Regions from separate parts of the Homo sapiens genome. Here all the other regions are reported to be linked to region 1. Evidence: microRNA targets listed by miRTarBase, many of them from high-throughput screens and not tested one by one. Region 1 holds a microRNA gene; each other region holds the end of a gene's coding sequence.

What was found. The annotated mature microRNA hsa-miR-4458 reads AGAGGUAGGUGUGGAAGAA and lies in region 1 at 1,728-1,746, shown strand. An mRNA with a match to its seed (bases 2 to 7 or 8) in the 3' UTR can be bound and repressed. Matches are read on the target gene's strand: a 7mer-m8 pairs with bases 2 to 8, a 7mer-A1 pairs with bases 2 to 7 and ends in A, and an 8mer does both.
Region 2: miRTarBase lists MARCKSL1 as a target of hsa-miR-4458. Seed matches in the 3' UTR shown: 7mer-m8 at 952-958.
Region 3: the mRNA of USP38 is a reported target of hsa-miR-4458. Seed matches in the 3' UTR shown: 7mer-m8 at 661-667.
Region 4: the mRNA of AQP6 is a reported target of hsa-miR-4458. Seed matches in the 3' UTR shown: 7mer-m8 at 1,013-1,019.
Region 5: miRTarBase lists TMED4 as a target of hsa-miR-4458. Seed matches in the 3' UTR shown: 7mer-A1 at 937-943.

Annotation. Positions count from the first base shown.
Region 1 is chr5:8,459,206-8,463,356 of GRCh38, forward strand. MIR4458 (microRNA 4458) reads left to right here and starts at 1,720; the gene lies at 1,720-1,794. It overlaps MIR4458HG (MIR4458 host gene), which reads left to right. Exons shown (of 2, transcript NR_039989.1): 2 at 728-3,891.
Region 2 is chr1:32,331,132-32,335,282 of GRCh38, reverse strand. It overlaps MARCKSL1 (MARCKS like 1), which reads left to right. Exons shown (of 2, transcript NM_023009.7): 2 at 186-1,444. The coding sequence ends at 686. It overlaps HDAC1 (histone deacetylase 1), which reads right to left. Exons shown (of 14, transcript NM_004964.3): 10 at 3,701-3,809; 11 at 3,477-3,607; 12 at 3,041-3,193; 13 at 2,534-2,582; 14 at 1,657-2,266. The coding sequence ends at 2,239. Among named protein-coding and RNA genes, the nearest start is that of MARCKSL1, 3.0 kb to the left of the region's middle. RefSeq lists a silencer at 1-228.
Region 3 is chr4:143,219,983-143,224,133 of GRCh38, forward strand. It overlaps USP38 (ubiquitin specific peptidase 38), which reads left to right. Exons shown (of 10, transcript NM_032557.6): 10 at 313-3,892. The coding sequence ends at 474. Among named protein-coding and RNA genes, the nearest start is that of USP38, 37 kb to the left of the region's middle.
Region 4 is chr12:49,975,307-49,979,457 of GRCh38, forward strand. AQP6 (aquaporin 6) reads left to right here. Exons shown (of 4, transcript NM_001652.4): 4 at 159-1,833. The coding sequence ends at 365. LOC105369764 (a long non-coding RNA gene) reads right to left here and starts at 199. Exons shown (of 3, transcript XR_001749143.2): 1 at 1-199.
Region 5 is chr7:44,576,237-44,580,387 of GRCh38, reverse strand. It overlaps TMED4 (transmembrane p24 trafficking protein 4), which reads left to right. Exons shown (of 5, transcript NM_182547.4): 5 at 760-2,494. The coding sequence ends at 909. Among named protein-coding and RNA genes, the nearest start is that of TMED4, 3.9 kb to the left of the region's middle.

The sequences.
Region 1 (4,151 bases):
AGTAGTTGCGGATCCATCCTACTCTAGAGTTTTTGTGCTATGTGTTAACTGTCTTTTATAAATGAAGGGACGGCTTCCTCTGTAACATACGGGAGCATTGTATAATCTTTGAACAGGCAAAAGCATTCCAGAGAAAAGATAGATGAATTTCATATATTTTTATTAAAACAATTTTATTAAAACATAGATAAATACTGGATTATTTAAGCAAGTTGCAGTCTATGTAGGTTAACCACTAAGCTATGCTTCCTCTCTTTGCATGCGTGTGTGTGTATACGTGTGTTTTTCCTAAAGATACATCAAGGCTTAGTACTTTCACAATGAGTTAAGTCCTGCGCTGTGCCTTGAAAGATGAAGGGAGGGAGTTAGAGGCAAAGATGAATTAACAGGTTAACAGGATCCGGGTCCAAGTCCTTAGATGCCTATTAAAGAGTTCAGGCTTCACTCTGCGGGAAGTAGGAAGATTTTTGAAAGACTAAGTACTGGAAGGACATGATCAGGTTTGCAACTTAGAACTATCACTGTGGCTGCAGACCTAAGAGTAGACGAGAAGGGTGGGTAGAAAGGTTAGGAAACTACATTTTCCGAAGAAAAACATGGAAAGAACTGAAAGGGTGATCCTGGAGTCAGAGCCAGGTAGAGAGTTTAGGGATTTAAGGAGGATTTGGTAAGAGATTTATTGTGAATCCTACATCCTAAAATTTTAATGTTTTTTTTTCTTTTCTAGAGATGATAAATAGCCAAAGACGTCAATGGCACCCATGGACATAGTAAGCATAGTAGGAGCTGAAAAACTAGAAGCAATGACAATGTCAACTATTTTGAGCAAAAAGAAGCAGTGTCTTCGGAACATTTGATCATAAAACCAGAAATTAAAGGATGAGAAAAACATTTTTCTGAAGCTTATACTTTCACATTTCCTAGAGAGCATATTTGTGTGGATGGGGGTGGGTAAACACTCAACAAAAGTTTCTTTAAAAAGAAGAAACCATCCTGGTTTGATGTAATCAATGGTTGCCCACTGCTCCCTTCCTGTGCCTGTGACCCTTCCCAAACTGCCCTGTTGCTTGCAGGCTCGCCTGAGCTGAAAGGCAGCCCTCACATCCCGTCGGCACCTCCCTGGGGCCTTCTTTACACCCTGGAGAACTTCACAGGGAATCTGTGTCTGTAACACAAAGGCTTCCTGGTCCAGATGTAGATACTAAGGCTGACTGGTTATTTAAGTCCTGCGGACTTACTCTGCCAAAATTATTTAATCATGTAAAAATAATTTATAATTCTTATAAAGTATCCCCTTCATAATATAATGAATGTTGGTGCTATTACATTTAAGTGCACATGTACAGTATACAAGATTATTAATAATAATGTTTTCAAATAGTTATTGTCAAAGCTATTTTTCTTATGTTTATGAAAGTGCTTATAAAATTCATGTTTTATGAGGCTGGAGATGTATATTTTGTAATTTCATTCTGATATTTGTTAATATTCGCTTCCAATGCTGGTTTTGTTTGATGAGACTGACATTGCCTAATTTCAAGCTTTTTGAATGTGTATTCTTTCAGGGCAAGTATGAAATAACTAGTAAAAAATATACAAATATGCTTAACAATAAGTAGACTTTCTCACATTGATTACTTACAACAGCTTTATGTGGGGTGAATCAGATGCCTGTATTACAGAAGCATCTAATGCAAAGCAAAATAAAAACACTTGCATGAGCGCACAGAGGTAGGTGTGGAAGAAAGTGAAACACTATTTTAGGTTTTAGTTACACTCTGCTGTGGTGTGCTGCCTAGTATTTGCAGGTTAATGCAAATACTAGGGGTTATGAATTGTTTCTAAGTTTATTATTAAAAATAGCCTTGCTTCATTTCTTCCTAAAATGGAGACAAATATGTATAGTGTCTGTGTTACCAGTATGTGTAAGAGTAATATCTTAATGCGTGTAAAATGTTTATAGGAACCTGTATTTCAAAGAGCTATTTTTGCAAGTGACACTATCCTTTTAAGAAACTTTTTTATTCAAACTTTTTCCTCCATTTATAACTATTCTATTATTTCTTAATGTTCAGAACCCTTTTCATTATCTATAAGGTTAAATTTTAGGTAAGTAATGAGAAAATAATAATATGTGGAGAAGAAATGAGTGAGGAGTCGAGATGTGTGTCAATCAAGAATGAGTTTGTCAGCCCTTGTATTATGATTTTACTCGGGAGGGGATAATTATTGAAGGATGTAATGTAAGGGCAGTGATACTATATGGTATGTAAGACTGTTAAAATCACTGAGGTAAGCTATTACTTGAACTAAGCATAGAAATAGAGACAGATTTTTAATGCATTTAATTATCAAAATATCTAAATTAAAGATTTGATGTGGTTGTTCACTGGAAACAAATGGCAGACAAACAGAATATTTCTTGGAATCATAAATGACATCATCCTGTCTCCAACTTTCTGTGTAGCTTCTTTCTTTAGTTGGTCTTTGCTTAGATTTCCCTGTGTCAGAGACGACTTCCCTGGATATCAGTGACAGTTATTGATTGCTCATGCTATGAACTCCTCCCATTTCTCAGCCCTCTTGCAGTAGGTGGGGCCATGGTACTAGTTGTGGCTTATTGCTTAAAGACTTTAAGGCTCCATGTGTGACTTTCCAGCTCTGGTCCACTGCTACTGCGGCTCTGGCAGGACTAGGGAGGTGCCCCGTGTCTCAGATGGTGCAGCCTCCATCCAGCTGTGTCCCTGAATGACTAGAGCACAGCCACTGGTGACCTGTGGTGGACGTAGAATGTGGGTAAGAGATAAACTTATGCTACACCGCTGGGGTTCAGGGGCTAATTTGTTACCACAGCATAGTCAACCTTTTCTAGCACCCCATTCTGTCTAAATTTAGTAGTCCTACCCCACTCCATGCCTCCCCAACCCTTCCCCTGGCTTTAGTTTCTTTGTAGCACTGGTCCCCGCATGACCTGTCGTTGCTTTACTTTCTCGCATCACTTCTCCCTGCCTCCAGCACATGCACTAAAATTTAAACTCCATGCCTGGACAAAATCAATGTTTGTTAAATAAAGTCTGCCAGTTCTGTTTGCGATTTTTCAGAAACAAGGAAAGAAATCCTATATAAAGTTGATCTGTGCTTTGGCAATATTCATTTAGGGTAATTGCCCTTTTTTCAAATGGCTGTGCATTTTTTATGATGATGAATATAAAGTATTTAGCAGAAATATTTTTTATTAAAATTGTTGAGCTTATGGAATCAATGTAGCAGCCTATGTGAAAGAAACACTGTGCTAGAGAGTTGTCTTTCTGCCACGTGTAATCATTACATTTAACTCAAGTTCTCCATGGGAGATCCATGCAGAGATATGAAAATAGGACGGACGTCTCTTCCTTCTTAAAAGTTGCTCCAGATTTTGGCTTCAAGTGCTTCCTGTTTTTTGCCCTCCCTTATCCCTGGGAGTTCCCTCTATTTACTTTCACAAGGACTCTTGGTATAAAAGATATTTGTATACCTGGGTGTGTGGGAAGGAATTGAAGGCAAAGGTAGCAGTCATTTCAAGCTGAACATGTTAAGTGGTAATCGAGCACTTGGTTTTTGTAGTACCTCCTGTGGCCATCTCCACAGTGTCATATTTGAAAGAAATCTTGTGTAAGCATTGGTCTAAGGGTCACTGACTGTGAATAATGAATGCGGTGACAGCATGGCCATCTTAGAGACAGGCAGGCCAGATATTGGTTACTTTGATTTTAGTTGACAAAGTTTATTTGCTTTTAAGTTTTAAAGCAATACAGCAGTGTGAACTTCAAGTTGTAAACTTTCATTTAGAAAGTTTAAAATTTAGTTGAAATATAAAATATTCTGAATCTGAATAAAAAGTTTTAAAACTTATTCTTCCTTTTCAGTTGTTTTAAACACAAATGAATCAAGAACATGATTATCACCAATCATTACATGTTTATATTTCTGTTGTATACTGAAGGGAGTGGTGAAATGAATGCTGGAGGAGGATTTTGGTTGAGAAATTGGGAGGAGGAGGAAGTAGCAACTAAGACTGAGACGAATGGCCAGTTAGGAAACTCAAGAATATGAAACACTAGAGAACAATAAAGTGTTTCAAGAAGAACTTATGGGCAACTGAGTCTATTACA
Region 2 (4,151 bases), not on the chromosome of region 1:
CTCCCCGCGCGCCCGTGAGGGGCGAGAGGGAGGTGTTTGACGGGATCCTGGGTGTGGGTGAGGCTGAAGCCAGACTTTCGGGTTGCAGTAGAATCGAATCGAGGACCCCTTCCTCTAGAAGGGATCAGAAGCGGGCTGGGGGAGGGGGAGCCCCTGCCCTCATTGCTATTCCCTCTGCCCTGCAGGAGAATGGCCACGTGAAAAGCAATGGAGACTTATCCCCCAAGGGTGAAGGGGAGTCGCCCCCTGTGAACGGAACAGATGAGGCAGCCGGGGCCACTGGCGATGCCATCGAGCCAGCACCCCCTAGCCAGGGTGCTGAGGCCAAGGGGGAGGTCCCCCCCAAGGAGACCCCCAAGAAGAAGAAGAAATTCTCTTTCAAGAAGCCTTTCAAATTGAGCGGCCTGTCCTTCAAGAGAAATCGGAAGGAGGGTGGGGGTGATTCTTCTGCCTCCTCACCCACAGAGGAAGAGCAGGAGCAGGGGGAGATCGGTGCCTGCAGCGACGAGGGCACTGCTCAGGAAGGGAAGGCCGCAGCCACCCCTGAGAGCCAGGAACCCCAGGCCAAGGGGGCAGAGGCTAGTGCAGCCTCAGAAGAAGAGGCAGGGCCCCAGGCTACAGAGCCATCCACTCCCTCGGGGCCGGAGAGTGGCCCTACACCAGCCAGCGCTGAGCAGAATGAGTAGCTAGGTAGGGGCAGGTGGGTGATCTCTAAGCTGCAAAAACTGTGCTGTCCTTGTGAGGTCACTGCCTGGACCTGGTGCCCTGGCTGCCTTCCTGTGCCCAGAAAGGAAGGGGCTATTGCCTCCTCCCAGCCACGTTCCCTTTCCTCCTCTCCCTCCTGTGGATTCTCCCATCAGCCATCTGGTTCTCCTCTTAAGGCCAGTTGAAGATGGTCCCTTACAGCTTCCCAAGTTAGGTTAGTGATGTGAAATGCTCCTGTCCCTGGCCCTACCTCCTTCCCTGTCCCCACCCCTGCATAAGGCAGTTGTTGGTTTTCTTCCCCAATTCTTTTCCAAGTAGGTTTTGTTTACCCTACTCCCCAAATCCCTGAGCCAGAAGTGGGGTGCTTATACTCCCAAACCTTGAGTGTCCAGCCTTCCCCTGTTGTTTTTAGTCTCTTGTGCTGTGCCTAGTGGCACCTGGGCTGGGGAGGACACTGCCCCGTCTAGGTTTTTATAAATGTCTTACTCAAGTTCAAACCTCCAGCCTGTGAATCAACTGTGTCTCTTTTTTGACTTGGTAAGCAAGTATTAGGCTTTGGGGTGGGGGGAGGTCTGTAATGTGAAACAACTTCTTGTCTTTTTTTCTCCCACTGTTGTAAATAACTTTTAATGGCCAAACCCCAGATTTGTACTTTTTTTTTTTTTCTAACTGCTAAAACCATTCTCTTCCACCTGGTTTTACTGTAACATTTGGAAAAGGAATAAATGTCGTCCCTTTAGTGGTGCTTTAATGAGTGGTCTTCTGGGGGTAGGGTGAGAAGATTGGTGGAAAGTAGTTTACCTCAAACCTCAAGGGAGGAGTTAAGGCAGGCAGGTAAGTTTATGGGGTTTTCTTGTTCAGGGGGTTGCCCCAATACTCATGGACACCAGAACGGCAGGGAAGTAGAGTTGAAACCAACCCAGGGACACATAGGAAACAAGCTCAGGAGGATATAGAAATGTACCATTTTATTACAAAGAGGCTCACAAAAATGAAAATAGTATCTCAAAAAGGAAACTAGACTAGCAACCTCCACCTGCAGAATTAGGAGAAGACAGACAGAGGGCAGGCAGTGTTTCTTGGCTCACTTGAGGCCAGTGGGAAGGTACGAAAACAGAACCAATCTAAAAATGGCTGATGTTACTTTAGGAGCCTGAAAAAAACAGGAGATCCTTGAAGACCCAGCCACCCCTTCTAGAATGTTCAATAAGGGCACCTTTCCAAAGCTACTAAGCAGGCACTTGGCATTTCAGGAGTTTGTCTTATGGTTGCATAAAAGTATCCCTTTCACCCAGACCTGGCACCCTTTATGGTTCAAAGTTAAGAACGGGAAGAATGGGTGGCAAGGTGGCTCCTGGAAGAGCTCACCCAGCACAGCTGCCCTGAGCTCGGGGCCTTGGTTTCTGTCCCTGGGGATATTTATATTTAATAAATTTTTATATAAATACACAGAGAAATAGAAAATATAAAATCTGAGGGGTTGGGGAAGAAACGTGAGGGACTCAGCAGGAAGCCAGAGCTGGAGAGGTCCATTCAGGCCAACTTGACCTCCTCCTTGACCCTGTGGAGAGAGCAGAGACTGGCATGAGATGACCCAGCCCAGAGCCTCAGGGCAAAAGTGCAGACAGTGACTTCCACAGGATCCTAGGTGACTACTGGGGGCTGGGGCTCCTAGCTCTGCCTAGAACTGCAGAGCTGGACAGACTGGTCCCTGAAAGAGGCCTTTGTAAGCTGGACCAGCTGTCCCTGTGCCTTTCCTCAGAGTGGTGGGACAAAGGGGCTGGTGCTCCAATGCCAGGGAGATGGCCACAGGCAGCTCCTTCCTCACCCTTTGGCTTCTGGCTTCTCCTCCTTGGTTTTCTCCTCTTCGGTGACTTCTAGAACACAAGAGTACAGGGATGGCCAAGGGCAGCACCTCTGGGAAGACCCATGAGGTCTTCATTTACCCTGAGACCCCTTCCCCAACACTACAGCTCACTGGACATAAAGAGAGAAAAGCCCATCCCTGGTCCTCCCAGTGAGCCCTGTTGAGAACAGGTTGGACTGGTTTCCCAGCCTGCTACAGCCAGAACCTGGTGGGCGGAGGCAGCCCCCTGGGAAACTGGGGTGCAGTGCTGGGAAAAGGGCTGGGGTGGTATGTGAGAGCCGTGCTCAGGCAGTAGAGGTTCATTGTTTTGTGGGCTCTGCCACTTCTGGGAGCCACTGAAAGGCTCAAGGAACTGAGGAAGAGCCCCACAGGAGCTGGCAGGGCCTGAGTCACTCCCTCCTCCCACTGCCCTACATAGATTCATCCTCTCAGGCTCGAGACCCAAGTCCCAGCTGAACCCAAACCCACCTTTCTTCTCCTCTGGGTCTTTCTCTTTTTCATCCTCTGTTTTGACTCTCTTGGCTTTTTTGAAGTTGGAAGAGTTCTTGCGGCCCCCCTCTCCCTCCTCTTCAGAATCGGAGAACTCTTCCTCACAGGCAATTCGTTTGTCAGAGGAGCAGACTGGGAGGGAGTGGGAAGCATGGGTGAGAGGGCAGGCGGGTGCTGATTTAGCTCAGCATCTATGCCCAGTGCTTCCCTGCGTGTCCTCCAAGAGACACCAAGGGAAAGGGAACCAGAAGAGGGAGGAACTCGGGCTCCCTAACCTGTTCCTACAGGCACTGGAACTCGAAAACAGATTTCTCTACAGGTGGGGAGCTTGGAGGGAGTGTGCAGCCAGGAATGGTGGTGGAAGTGTGAGCTGCCTATTGAATGGAAGGCATAGGGCTCTAGGTCTGGGTCTCACTCGAGATGCGCTTGTCAGGGTCGTCTTCGTCCTCATCGCCACTCTCCTCAGGGATGGCGTCCTCAGGAATCGCCTGCATTTGGACCCCAGGTGCGTGCGGCAGCATTCTAAGGTTCTCAAACAGTCGCTGTCTGTGGCCAATGGGAGAGAGTAGCAGGGCTCTGGTCAGGGACAAACCAAAGTCAGGAATGTTCAACCAAGGGGTGGCTGGAGGATATACTCACTTGATCTTCTCCAGGTACTCATTCGTGTTCTGGTTAGTCATATTGGAAGGACTGATGTGGAGCTTGAAATCTGGTCCAAAGTATTCAAAGTAGTCATTGTATGGAAGCTCTGATTGGGGCAGGAGAGAAGACCGTCAAGAGACCTGGCCACCGCACCCTAACCATTTGCACGTAAGCACCCTAAAGCATTTGTAGGTTTCTCTGGGCCTATTTATCCAAACAGAGGAGAATGCCTCCAAGACACTGTGAGACACGGGTACCTATGGGATTTCCATCTTTTTAACATCACTCTCCTATGTCTGTACCAGTGGTGTATATGTCGCTAGGAGAAGGCCCATGTCCCTGGTTTAGGACACTTGAGGCCATGCTCATTATGAGCGCTCCCTTCACTCGCTACTCCAGTTACTCTACAGAGTAGAAATTCCAAAGCTGTAAATTACCAATGAGAACT
Region 3 (4,151 bases), not on the chromosome of region 1:
ACATTTAACTGTAATCACCCACTTCCAAAATAGCCCCAATTGCTGGAGAATAGATAATCTATTGTGATAATCTTTGAATTCTATGTTAAATATATTAGAAAAGAATCTATTCCAGTATGTTTTAGAGAGTGTTGCAGGAACTGTAATATTTTCTTAGAGAAATTTTTTTTTCTTAGGTGCTTTAGTTTCAAAGTTATTGAGATTTGAAGAATGTTTATAAGGATTAAGGTAGTTTTAAAATATTTCTATAGGTGATATAACGATCCATTGTATTTAGCATTTTAATTTCATAAAAGTTATTTTTAATTTTAGGAACAAGAGTTGAATGCTCGAGCCCGGGCCCTCCAAGCTGCATCTGCTTCATGTTCATTTCGGCCCAATGGATTTGATGACAACGACCCACCAGGAAGCTGTGGACCAACTGGTGGAGGGGGTGGAGGAGGATTTAATACAGTTGGCAGACTCGTATTTTGATCCTGAGAGAGTCCAAAATGCACTGGTCACGAAACGTCTAATACTATGACTGTTAAAATGTCAGACTATAACAAATATCTATCTTTTATTTTTCATTAGACCCTTATACTTCAAGAGAACACACTCAGTGCTTGTTTTTATTTTCTTGACACATTTATTAACAAAATGCATCATGGAAAAAAAAATCTACCTCTTAAAATTCCATTTGCTTTTATGGTTAGACATGCTTGACCAAAAATGTTCAGAAGAAAATATGTACCTGGTCCCTAATTAAGCTGCGTTAAATTTGGTAGAAGCATTTAAATGGTCTATCTTCAGTTTTACTGAACAAAAAATGTAATTTATTTAGCATTCTTTATAAAAGAATTGATGCTAGAGGTAAAAAAAAATACTTGTTTTTAAAAAATCCTTTACGTCTTGTGTAATTACCCCATTATTAAATTCAAGTCCTTGAAAATCAACTAGAGATTATAAAGTCTCTAAAGAAGGCAATAACAAAATTTATCAAGATATAGTACTTTTCAGTTTTTGTTTAGTGTCTTCAGCATCACTGTGTCTGTATTTCAAGTACAAATGTTTTTAAAAAGGATTCTTTATACATATGTGCTGAATTGATTTTAAGAAAGTTGCATGATCCTGTAGGAGCAACATTTTTACCTAAAAAATGCTAACTTTATAGTATTTCTAATTGTTCAAGGATTTTAAAATTCTATTTCAGGGAGTATATCTTCTGTGGTTTTGAAGGAGGTGAGTTCTGTATGTGCCTTGCAGTACTGTAATTCAAAAATAGGAATCTTTGGCTGCAAAATTTTAATGAAATGTTAGGAAGTAATTTTCGTGCTAACATTAAAATTATAACTTTTTGAAAGGTAATAGATTTTCCAGAAGTAAAATCTGATGGTTCTAAATCAATCAATGTGATAGTTCATTTTTAACTCTTAGAAGAATTCAGAGGAAATTAACCCAGCTAAGTAAAAAATCTGTCTTGATTTTGTTACTTATTCCTCAGAATATTAAACATTGATCACATATTTTTAGAGTTTTACATTTGGGTTTTTTGTTTGTTTGTTTCAGTCATATGTTTGGCACTGTTGTTTCTATTTTCGTAGTTTTAGATAAAATGTTAAAATGCCAAACCCTACCTTCCTACACTTTTTCTTTTGCCAGGAAACTGGAAACATGTCAGTTCTCCTGGTTCTTGATTATACAGTACTCAAGAGTTATCCCAGTTATCCCCCTTCCTAAAGGTTTTAACTTATCCACAGTTGTGCATTGTTCTGAAGATTGGTCTCATATTTATTTTGAAAACACTTTAAGGAAACAATGTTCTTCGATGATTTGGGGTTTATCTTTTTCCCAAGCTTTTATGACAGTGGTTAAAAAACAGAAATCCTCATGTTTATTCCATTACCTCCCATTCCTAACCTGTTTCCAATCACCAGGAAGATTAGGAAGGCAGATTAGATTAAAAACTGAAAATTCTTTGCAGATTTAATGAAGGTTCTCCTCCTTATAAATGAATGAACCAGTTATCATGCTTTTCTGTGGTTTTCCTATCCCAATAGTGAATTTCTGAGCTATCCTGTGTGTTCAGTTATCCACTTACTTGATAGCAACTTACGACCAGATTATATCAGTCTTGGCATTTATTGAAATTGGTAAAGTGATTTAATACTTGATAGATTGATATTGGGCTAAGATGCTTCTAGGAACTTTCATAAAAGCAATTATACTTGTGCAGCTTTATCTATGAATATCAGGTCTCTCAAGGATTTTATGTATCAAGATAATATGTATTGACTTTTTTAAATGATAAAATGAATTCTAGTTAGAGTCTTTCCTTGGTATCTGCAGTGGATTGGTTCCAGAACACCATCCCCCAATATTAAAATCCACAGATACTCAAGTCCCTTATTTATATAAAATAGCACAGTATTTGCATATAACCTGTGCACATCCTCCCATATACTTTAATCTCCAGATGATTAGATATGATTGCATAGCACTTACGTTGTGCTATGTAGTTGTTATATTGTTTTTTCATTTGTACTATTTTTTATGATATTTATTGGTTTTTTAAATTTTCTATCCAAAGTTGTTTGAATCTAAGGATACAGAGCCTGAGGATATGGAAAGCTGACTAAATATAGTAACACTGAAGAGTATTCAAATGATAACTCATACCAGTACCAAAAACTTGAAGACTTCCTTTTAACATTAAAAATACAGTAACTTTTTACGTGATTTGTTGAATTCAACATATTTGGAACCAGAATAATCAGAAACTTCATTCAAAACCTATGCATCTGAACTTTTTTAGTAAGGTAATACTCAGGACTGTTCTGATTCTAACAGATCCCTGTTAATTACAGATTTATTTGTCATATTAGGTCTTTTCTTTCTCCCATATTCCTAACCCGTGTACTAGCTCCAACTGTTGTGAGGTTTGACTCTGAAGACTGAGTAGAGTACTATTGTTGTTTTTCTTTCCTTAGTCAGAGTAATCAGTTTAAATGAAGTTGCTCATTGCTGCTAAGAAGCATTAGGCTTCACTGCTAGCAAAAATGAAAAACTACAAATCTGAGTCTTTCTTTCAAAGATGTTTATTGACATAATTAAAGTAAAAAATTGTTTAGAGATATGCAAAGAAGGAAATATATATGATGTCACACAAGCTCCAGTAAGCTATCCACTAAGCAGGTGCCTGTGCAACTCTGATTTATGGCATTAACATATCAAATTGAAGGAAGGATTCTAGCTCATTTTCCATTCAAGCATCTTCCCACTGCCTCTCTTCCAGCTAAATAATCAGAGAAGCAGGGCAGTATATCCCTGGAGATCCCTGACTTTTATCTCCATACCTTAAATTGTTGGTAGATCCTTTGGATGTAGAGATAAAAATTCATTATGATGCTAGAGGCATTGGGGGGTCCATGCGAAAGGTTCAAACAGCCTATTACATTAATGCACATGTGGAAAGAACAAAAATTTTCAAGCTAAGTCTTAAGTTCAAATCTATAATTTTTTTCTCTTCAGTTCTGTTCTTTGTATGATAATCCTTAAAAAAGTAGTTGTCTTCTTTTCACATACACCTCTTTAAAGCTATCATCTTATAATAAGTGGAATTGGATGCTTATTGTGTGCCCAGCACAGTTTAGGAAAAAAATAATTGGCACTGTTTGTCCAGTTACTGGAGATCTTCATTTTGATGCTTTGTACTTTGTTCCAGGTCTTTAATTCTCAGTCCATCTTTTCCTATGATTGTGTACTTCACATGATACATTCCATATAAAGAGCTCTTTTAAAATGACTATTTCAAAAATACTGTACATTTATATATAGTATTTTTTCTCATAAAAATGTGATAGTTTATATATCCTTTCATCATACGTTTTTTCTAATGAGTTTAGATTTCTGAAACTAAATATTCCTGAAGTAGAGAAGAGTAAGTTATTCACATTTTACAAAAACATACTAGGAAATGCTAACTGGTTATTATTAGCAACTCAGTAACATCAGAGGAGTAAGGTTAAATCTTAGATAATGCAAACCTGTAACTAAGAAGTGCAACAGTAAGGAAATTTGAATTAAAAGTTGCTATCCCCAAAAAACAAATAATTCTAAAATATAAGCTGTTTCATATGTATATTCTTAAGTTTTATCAAACTGTTATGTAT
Region 4 (4,151 bases), not on the chromosome of region 1:
TTGGGAAACACGACTCGTGGTTCTCAAATTTAGCACCTTACAGACAGTTGAGGGAGACCTGGGAGATCAAGTCGGCACTGGGGAAGCAGGCAGCGGTCCCAGAGCCACCCTGTGGTCCTGATAGCTCCTGGGTGGGGTGACGACATCCTTCTCCTCAGGTCTTCTGGGTGGGGCCCCTGATGGGAGCCCTCCTGGCCTCACTGATCTACAACTTCGTCCTGTTCCCCGACACCAAGACCCTGGCGCAGCGGCTGGCTATCCTCACAGGCACCGTAGAGGTGGGGACAGGGGCAGGGGCAGGGGCGGAGCCCCTGAAGAAGGAATCCCAGCCGGGTTCGGGAGCCGTGGAGATGGAGAGTGTGTGAAACAGCCTACGCCTGGCCGCGCCCTTGGGCTTCCTGCCTTGCAGGACCTGCCTGGAGGTTCTCCCTGGGGGTGGCGGGAGGGGGAGGCTTGACCTTTTGTCCTGACCAGGTGGGCTGGAGGGGACAAGCCCTATCCCTGGCATTACGTTTCTAGGTAGAATCTGGGAGTGAATTTGTCCCATTCCCTCTCTGTAGGGCTTCCCCACCTCTCGGTGGGACAGAGCAGAGGAAGGCAGGGGATTTAGGATCGCCCTCCCATCCTCTCACCCACTGGACCCCGTAGGAGTCCTGACCCCAGATGCCCAAGTCTTGGGGGAGAAAGGAATGGGAGCCCAGACAGCCACTCTGCTTAGACATGGGAGCTATAGGGACCTCAGGGAGCCCCAGCTTCTTACCCACCCAGGAAACCCTTGGTCCAGAGAGGACAGGCTTTCTGGAGGAATCAGGCCCTGGGACAGCCTCTGAGCTCCTGGGGGTGTTTCTCTGACCTTGGGTGTGGTTTTGGGGGCTATATTTCCTCCTTCAGACTGGGGGCTTCCTGAGGACAGAGACTGCTCTACCAATAGATCTTTGTTTGTTTTGAGACAGAATCTTGATCTGTTACCCAGGCTGGAGTGCAGTGGCATGATCTCGGCTCACTGCAACCTCTACCTCCTGGGTTCAAGGGATTCTCCTGCCTCAGCCTCCCAAGTAGCTGGGATTACAGGCGCCTGCCACCACGCCCAGCTAATTTTTTGTATTTTTAGTAGAGATGGGGTTTCATCATATTGGTCAGGGTGGTCTCAAACTCCTGACCTGAGGCGATCTGCCCACCTCGGCCTCCCAAAGTGCTGGGATTACAGGCGTGAGCCACCGTGCCCGGCCTCTCCCAATAGGTCTTTATTCCTCAATCCTCCAAATGCTCTGGAGAGGCCCCCACCCTTGAGAAGAACTGACACAGAGAAGAACATTTTCTCAGGCTCGTAGAGAGGTGGGATAGAGGAAGGGAGGTTTGAGCCAGACAGGCCTTTCCCAGGGAAGCCTCCTCCCAGGTGCTTGCCCCAGCTCCCACCCCACAGCCCACTCTCAGGCAGGAACAATCCTCAGAGGGGAAGTGCCCATCTAGCCATTGACTCATGACCTGGGTCAAAGAAGCCGTCTCCAGGCTCTCTGTCAGCATTACAGGATCCCCAGAAAGCTGTTGAATAAGCCCTAAGGGTGGTAGGAACCCAGGAGGGACCCAGGAAACTAAGATTTGAGATTCAGTGCCTCTGAAAGACTACCAAAATCTAAGTTGGTTTAATAGTTAAAAGCTGCTGTAGATTTATTCTGCCCACAACTTGGGGGTCCTTTCTGGATCTCGGCTTCTCCAGCTGTAAAATGGACACACAATCCTCCTCCAGGGACTGCTGTGAAATCAAGAAATCGGAAAATACTTTCAGAAGTTAAAATGCTAGAAAAACAACCCCAATAAATGATGATTATTGTTGCTGTTACTGTAATTATTGGGTATGAAGACAATTGCTGTTGGTAATGAGAGGGAGGAGGGGAAAAGAGAGAGAGAAAGATGATTGAGAGGGAGGGAAGAGAGACTGGGTTTTCTCTCACATCATTGGATCTACTTAACCAGGGACCCTGTGTGCTCTTCTCCTGGGTCTGCTGACCTTGAGGCTTTGTGGGTGTGAGGGGCTGTGGGAGGGCCCTGGAATGAAGAGGCGAACCAATAAAATCAGTTCTTCTCATCTCTATGACGCCCATCACCATGGTACCCTAAGATGCAGCAGCCAAATTCATATAAAAGATGGGTCCTGGCGGCCAGGCACGGTGGCTCACGCCTGTAATCCCAGCACTTTGGGAGGCTGAGGCGGGCAGATCACGAGGTCAGGAGATCGAGACCATCCTGGCCAACATGGTGAAACCCTGTCCCTACTAAAATATAAAAAATTAGCCGGGCGTGGTGGCGCGTGATTGTAGTCCCAGCTACTTGGGAGGCTGAGGCAGGGGAATCACTTGAACCCGGAAGGTAGAGGTTTCAGTGAGCCAAGATCACGCCACTGCACTCCAGCCTGGTGACAGAGCAAGACTCTGTCTCAAAAAAAAAAACAAAAAAAACAAAACAAAAGATGGGTCCTGGCCTGGTGCAGTGGCTCCCACCTGTAATCCTAACACTTTGGGAGGCCAAAGTGGGAGGATCGCTTGAGGCCAGGAGTTCGAGACCAGCCTGGACAACATGGCAAAACCCTGCCTCTACAAAAAATTAAAAACTTAGCCAGGCATGACGGCTCAAACCTGTAATCACCAACATGTTGGGTGGCCCAAGCAGGAGGATTGCTTGAGGCCAGGAGTTTGAGACCATCCTGGGCAGCATAGTGAAACTTCATCTCTATTATTTAAAATGAAAAATTAATTAAATTAAAATACAAACAAAAGATAGATCCTTTTTAGTGATGTCTCCTGAGGGACTGGGGATGGGGGAAAGGCTGCCCAAGTCTTCCAAGGGCAGTGTGGCAGGCCCAGCCTGTGACCAGTGCAGTAGCTGAATCCCTGGTGCTCATAGCCCCAGTAGCTGTGCTCAGCGTTCTGTAATATCAGCGCAGATACTACTCACATCTCTCCAAGCTGGGCCCCACTCATCCATCTTCACAATCTCTCAGAGTCCAAGGCTGCCTGTGTCCTTTTATGAGCAGGGAGAGCTGGGTGTCTGTATGTATGCATGTATGAGAGCGTATGTGTAAACAGAGGACATGATTGACTTGCTCAAGGTCACCTGGTTCAGGAGCACGAACACTTAAGGTCTCCCCAGCTCCCAGTTGAGAATTTTCCAAAATAGAGCTCCTGGGGGGTTCATACAAGCTGCAGCCCCAGGAAGGAAGGAAACAGGAACTAGAGGATTGAAGGGGATGGGGGCGTGGAGCTCCTATGGTAGGCTCTTAAGCTCCTTGACAAATGATCACTGCTTTTTGTCCCCAGAGCCAAGCACACACTGGGTGCTCAATATAAGTTTGATGAATGAATAAGGCTGGGCAGTTGGGGAGGATGGGAGGCAGTAATAGATCAAGAGGAGAAAATTTCAGGAGTTACAGCTCCAAATAAGCCAGTATGACAGCAGCTGAGAAGCCTATGCTTCCAGGCAGGGGCTGGGGAGAGGGTGCATCGCCAGATATTTGCTGTTCCACCCACAATTTCAGAGCAGGCTTCACAATGTCTGTCCCAGGAACATACAGGCCAAAATATGAGGGGTTGCCTGAAGAGAAAGCTGAGGGGCTATTTTCACTAACAGTTCTTCAAAGCAGTTCTGTCAGGACAGAGCAGGAGGAAATAAGTTTCCTGAGAAGTGGGGAATTAGGTTAGCCTCTGAAGAGCATCCAAGGTTAGACGTGGAAATAAGTAACCAAAGGTTCGCTTCCCCTCCTCTGGAGCCCTTTAATAGGACAGCAGGCCATCTGTTTGGATGAGGGAAGGGCTGGCCTTTGGAGAGCTGAATCTCAGTAGCTCCAGCTGGGGGAAGCAGGCTTCATTGGCATAGCCCCTGGGCCTGGGTGGGGGCAGGGGACATGGGGAGGACAGAGACCCAACCAGGCCAGCCCTTGGTGTGCATTCCCTTCCTCCTGTTTGTCAGGGAAGTTTTTAATTAATGGTGTATAATCTGATCTGACCCTTCTCCCTGCTGAGCACTGCCTTCAATCAGTGGAGCCATCTGCAATTGCAATTCATAATTCTCCCCAAAGGGAGGGGGACTCGGGCCGGGTGCCTTGGTGATTAATACAATTAGCCTTTTATGTTGATGATTGTCTTAGCAGGAGCAGA
Region 5 (4,151 bases), not on the chromosome of region 1:
TCCTGCCTCAGCCTCCCAAGTAGCTGGGATTACAGGCAAGTGCCACCATGCGTGGCTCATTTTTGTGTTTTTAGTAGAGACTGGGTTTCACCATGTTGGCCAGGCTGGTCTTGAACTCCTGGCCTCAGGCAATCCACTGCCGCAGCCTCCCAAAGTGTTGGGATTACAGGCGTGAGCCACTGCACCCAGCAAATCTGTACTTATTATAAACAATAACTTCCCGTTTCCTTTTGTCCTGACACCCACCATTCTACTTTCTGTCTCTATGATCCTGACTACCCTATCTCATATAAGTGGAATCATTCAGTATTTGTCCTTTTGTGACTGGCTTATTTCACTGAGTATAATGTTCTCACAGTTCATCCATGTTATAGCATGTGTCAGAATTTCTTAAGGCTAATATTCCATTGTATGCATGTGCCACATTTCGCTTTCAGTAGTCATTTTTAAGCTCTATAAAATAAAATGAAGAAAGGACAGTTCACAATCTAGTAATAGCCATTGCCTACCTGTTTTTCTTGGACTCTTGTTGGAAATGGTAGGATCATGATTTCAGTCCTAACAGAGATGCTTGTGGAGGGACAGCCTGTCCCTTTCTTGGGGCAGCCTCAGTGGGGAGACCATAGCACTCCTAATGGAGTCACAGATAGTATTCCAAAAGGAGTTTGGTCCTGGAGTTGAGTAATTACACGCAGGGAGGGACCTCACAACAGCCAGACTGTTTCTCCTGCTCACTTAACCCTGTGTTGCCCCACACAGTATCGTGAAGAGCGCTTCCGACTGACGAGCGAGAGCACCAACCAGAGGGTCCTATGGTGGTCCATTGCTCAGACTGTCATCCTCATCCTCACTGGCATCTGGCAGATGCGTCACCTCAAGAGCTTCTTTGAGGCCAAGAAGCTGGTGTAGTGCCCTCTTTGTATGACCCTTCCTTTTTACCTCATTTATTTGGTACTTTCCCCACACAGTCCTTTATCCACCTGGATTTTTAGGGAAAAAAATGAAAAAGAATAAGTCACATTGGTTCCATGGCCACAAACCATTCAGATCAGCCACTTGCTGACCCTGGTTCTTAAGGACACATGACATTAGTCCAATCTTTCAAAATCTTGTCTTAGGGCTTGTGAGGAATCAGAACTAACCCAGGACTCAGTCCTGCTTCTTTTGCCTCGAGTGATTTTCCTCTGTTTTTCACTAAATAAGCAAATGAAAACTCTCTCCATTACCTTCTGCTTTCTCTTTGTCCACTTACGCAGTAGGTGACTGGCATGTGCCACAGAGCAGGCCCTGCCTCACTGTCTGCTGGTCAGTTCTGGGTTCACTTAATGGCTTTGTGAATGTAAATAAGGGGCAGGTCTTGGCCCTAGAGGATTGAGATGTTTTTCTAAATCTTAGAACTATTTTTGGATAAATTATATATTTTCCTTCCTAGTAGAAGTGTTACTGCCTGTAACTAGCTCAAAATACCAATGCAGTTTCTGCATTCTGGGTTTTGTTTTTCCTTTTTTTTTTTTTTTTTTTTTTTTGAGTTTTGCTCTTGTCGCCCAGGCTGGAGTGCAATGGCGTGATCTCAGCTCACTGGCAACATCTGCCTCCCGGGTTCAAATGATTCTCCTGCCTCAGTCTCCTGAGTAGCTGGGATTACAGGTGCCCGCCACCACGCTCAGCTAATTTTTGTATTTTTAGTAGAGATGGGGTTTTACCATGTTGGCCAGGCTGGTCTTAGACTCCTGACCTCAGTTGATCCACCTGCCTCAGCCTCTGCATTCAGTTTATTCACATATTTTTGGTAACTCCCATGGCAGCTCCTAGGATTTCAGCGGTCTGTGGGCCAGAAAGCAGGCACCAGGGCTGACCTCAAGGCCGTATCAGAGGGCCAAGCAGAGTTCTTTTGGATACCTGCTTTTCATCCCACAGGGCCTTAGAGTCAGAGGTAAGGTAGCAACAGAGCTAGAATGGGGCAATGCACTCTTACCCTCCTTCTCAACTTTTATTTAAGCTGTGCTAAATGTTTTCTTCAAGGGAACCAGATTTAGTTCTTTACAGAATTTTCCAGTGAAATAAAACATGTTGTAATAGCTGTGTTTGAGATGAAATAAGAGGTTGTGGGTAGAGGGGAGGCACCTAAAGGAAAAGAGGAAAGGTGCCTGGGCTACCTATGCAGATAACCTGGAGTGGACTTCACTGTGGACTCGTGGTACTAAGGCTTGGCCTGGACAGGCAGTCTAGGGGGTATGGGAATACACGGTGTGGTTGTTCAACTATTTGCAAAGGTCAACCAAATAGACCACATGTTCGCAAAGTATCATCTGAGGAAATTAAGTACCTTCTTAGCCCTCTCAGTCATAAATTTGAACAAATTTTAATACACTTCCCTCATGCCCTTCTATATAAAACTTAATACCATTAGTTCCCCATTCTTGACATTTTATTTCAGTTTTTATTATATATTTATTTGAAATATTTATTAAATTATCTGACCTACAGAACTAAATTCTTCTCCTTTTGTTATTTCTTATGTCCTATACCATATATGTACCTATTTATATATATATTTATGTATTTTTAAAATTTTTATTTATTTTATTTTTTGAGACAGTCTTGCTCTGTCGCCCAGGCTGGAGTGCAGTGGCATGATCTTGGCTCACTGCAACCTCTGCCTCCCGGGTTCAAGCAGTTCTGCCTCAACTTCTGAGTAGCTGGGATTACAGACACCCACCACTACACCCGGCTAATTTTTGTATTTTTATTTTATCTTATTCATTTATTTATTTTTGAGATGGAGTCTCACTCTGTCGCCCAGGCTGGAGTGCAGTGGTGCAATCTTGGCTCACTGCAACCTCCACCTCCTGAGTTCAAGAGATTCTCCTGCCTCAGACTCCCGAGTAGCTGGGATTATAGGCGCCCGCCACCATGCCCAGCTAATTTTTGTATTTTTAGTAGAGACAGGGTTTCACCATGTTGACCAGGCTGGTCTTGAATTCCTGACCGCAGGTGACCCGTCTCGCCTCCCAAAGTGCTGGGATTACAGGTGTGAGCTGGCCGGGCACAGGTGATGGGGTCTTGCTCTGTCCCCAAGGCTGGAGTGCAGTGGTGCCATCACAGCTCAAAGCAACCTTGAGCTCCCAGGTTCAAGTGATCCTCCTACCTTACCCTCCCAAGTAGCTGGTACTACAGGTATACTCCACTGTGCCTGGCTATTTTTACTCTTAAAAATACATGTGGGCTGGGCACGGTGGCTCACGCCTGTAATCCTAGCACTTTGGGAAGCCAAGGTGGGTGGATCCCTATAGCCCAGGAGTTCGAGACCAGCCTGGGCAACATGGCGAAATCTTGTCTCTGCAAAAAATACAAAAAATTTAGCTGGTGGCACATGCCTATAGTCCCAGCTACTTGAGAGGCTGAGGTGGAAAGATCACTTGAGCCCGGGAGGTCAAGGCTGCGGTGAGCCATGATCGTGCCACTGCACTCCAGTCTGGGCAACAGTGATCCCATCTGAAAAAAAAAAACAAAAAAAAAAATGCAATTTAGGGCCAGGTGGGGTGGCTCACGCCTATAATCCCAGCACTTTGGGAGGCCAAGGCAGGGGGATCGCCTGAGGTCAGCAGTTTGAGACCAGGCTGGCCAACATGGTGAAAACCCCTCTCTACTAAAAGTATAAAAATTAGCCAGGCATGGTAGTGTGTGCCTGTAATCCCAGCTATTCAGGAAGCTAAGGCAGGAGAATCGCTTGAACCCGGGAGGAGGTTGCAGTGAGCAGAAATCGAGCCACTGCACTCCAGCCTGGGGGGCAGAGGGAGACTCTGTCTCAGAAAAAAAAAAAAAAATGCAATTTAGTTCTCTAGGCTTTTCCATTTAATAGTTTTATATCCTCCTGTTTCTAAATCTGGATGACAGTGTAACACTCCAGTAAGGTGAATTGTGAATTGCTGAAATTCTTCAGATGTTTAAAAGAGTTTTCAGTATTCCTCATGTTAGAATTAATGCAGAGAAAAATTTTATCCTTTGAACTAGTTACATGTTGTGGACTTCTGGCCTGAGGCTCTTGGGGATTATGTGACATATTGGGAAGGGACACATTTCTGCTCTGTGGCTGTTACTAGAAATCTAGCCAGCAAATCAGACTACGTTTGTGAGAAGACAGGAAGGCA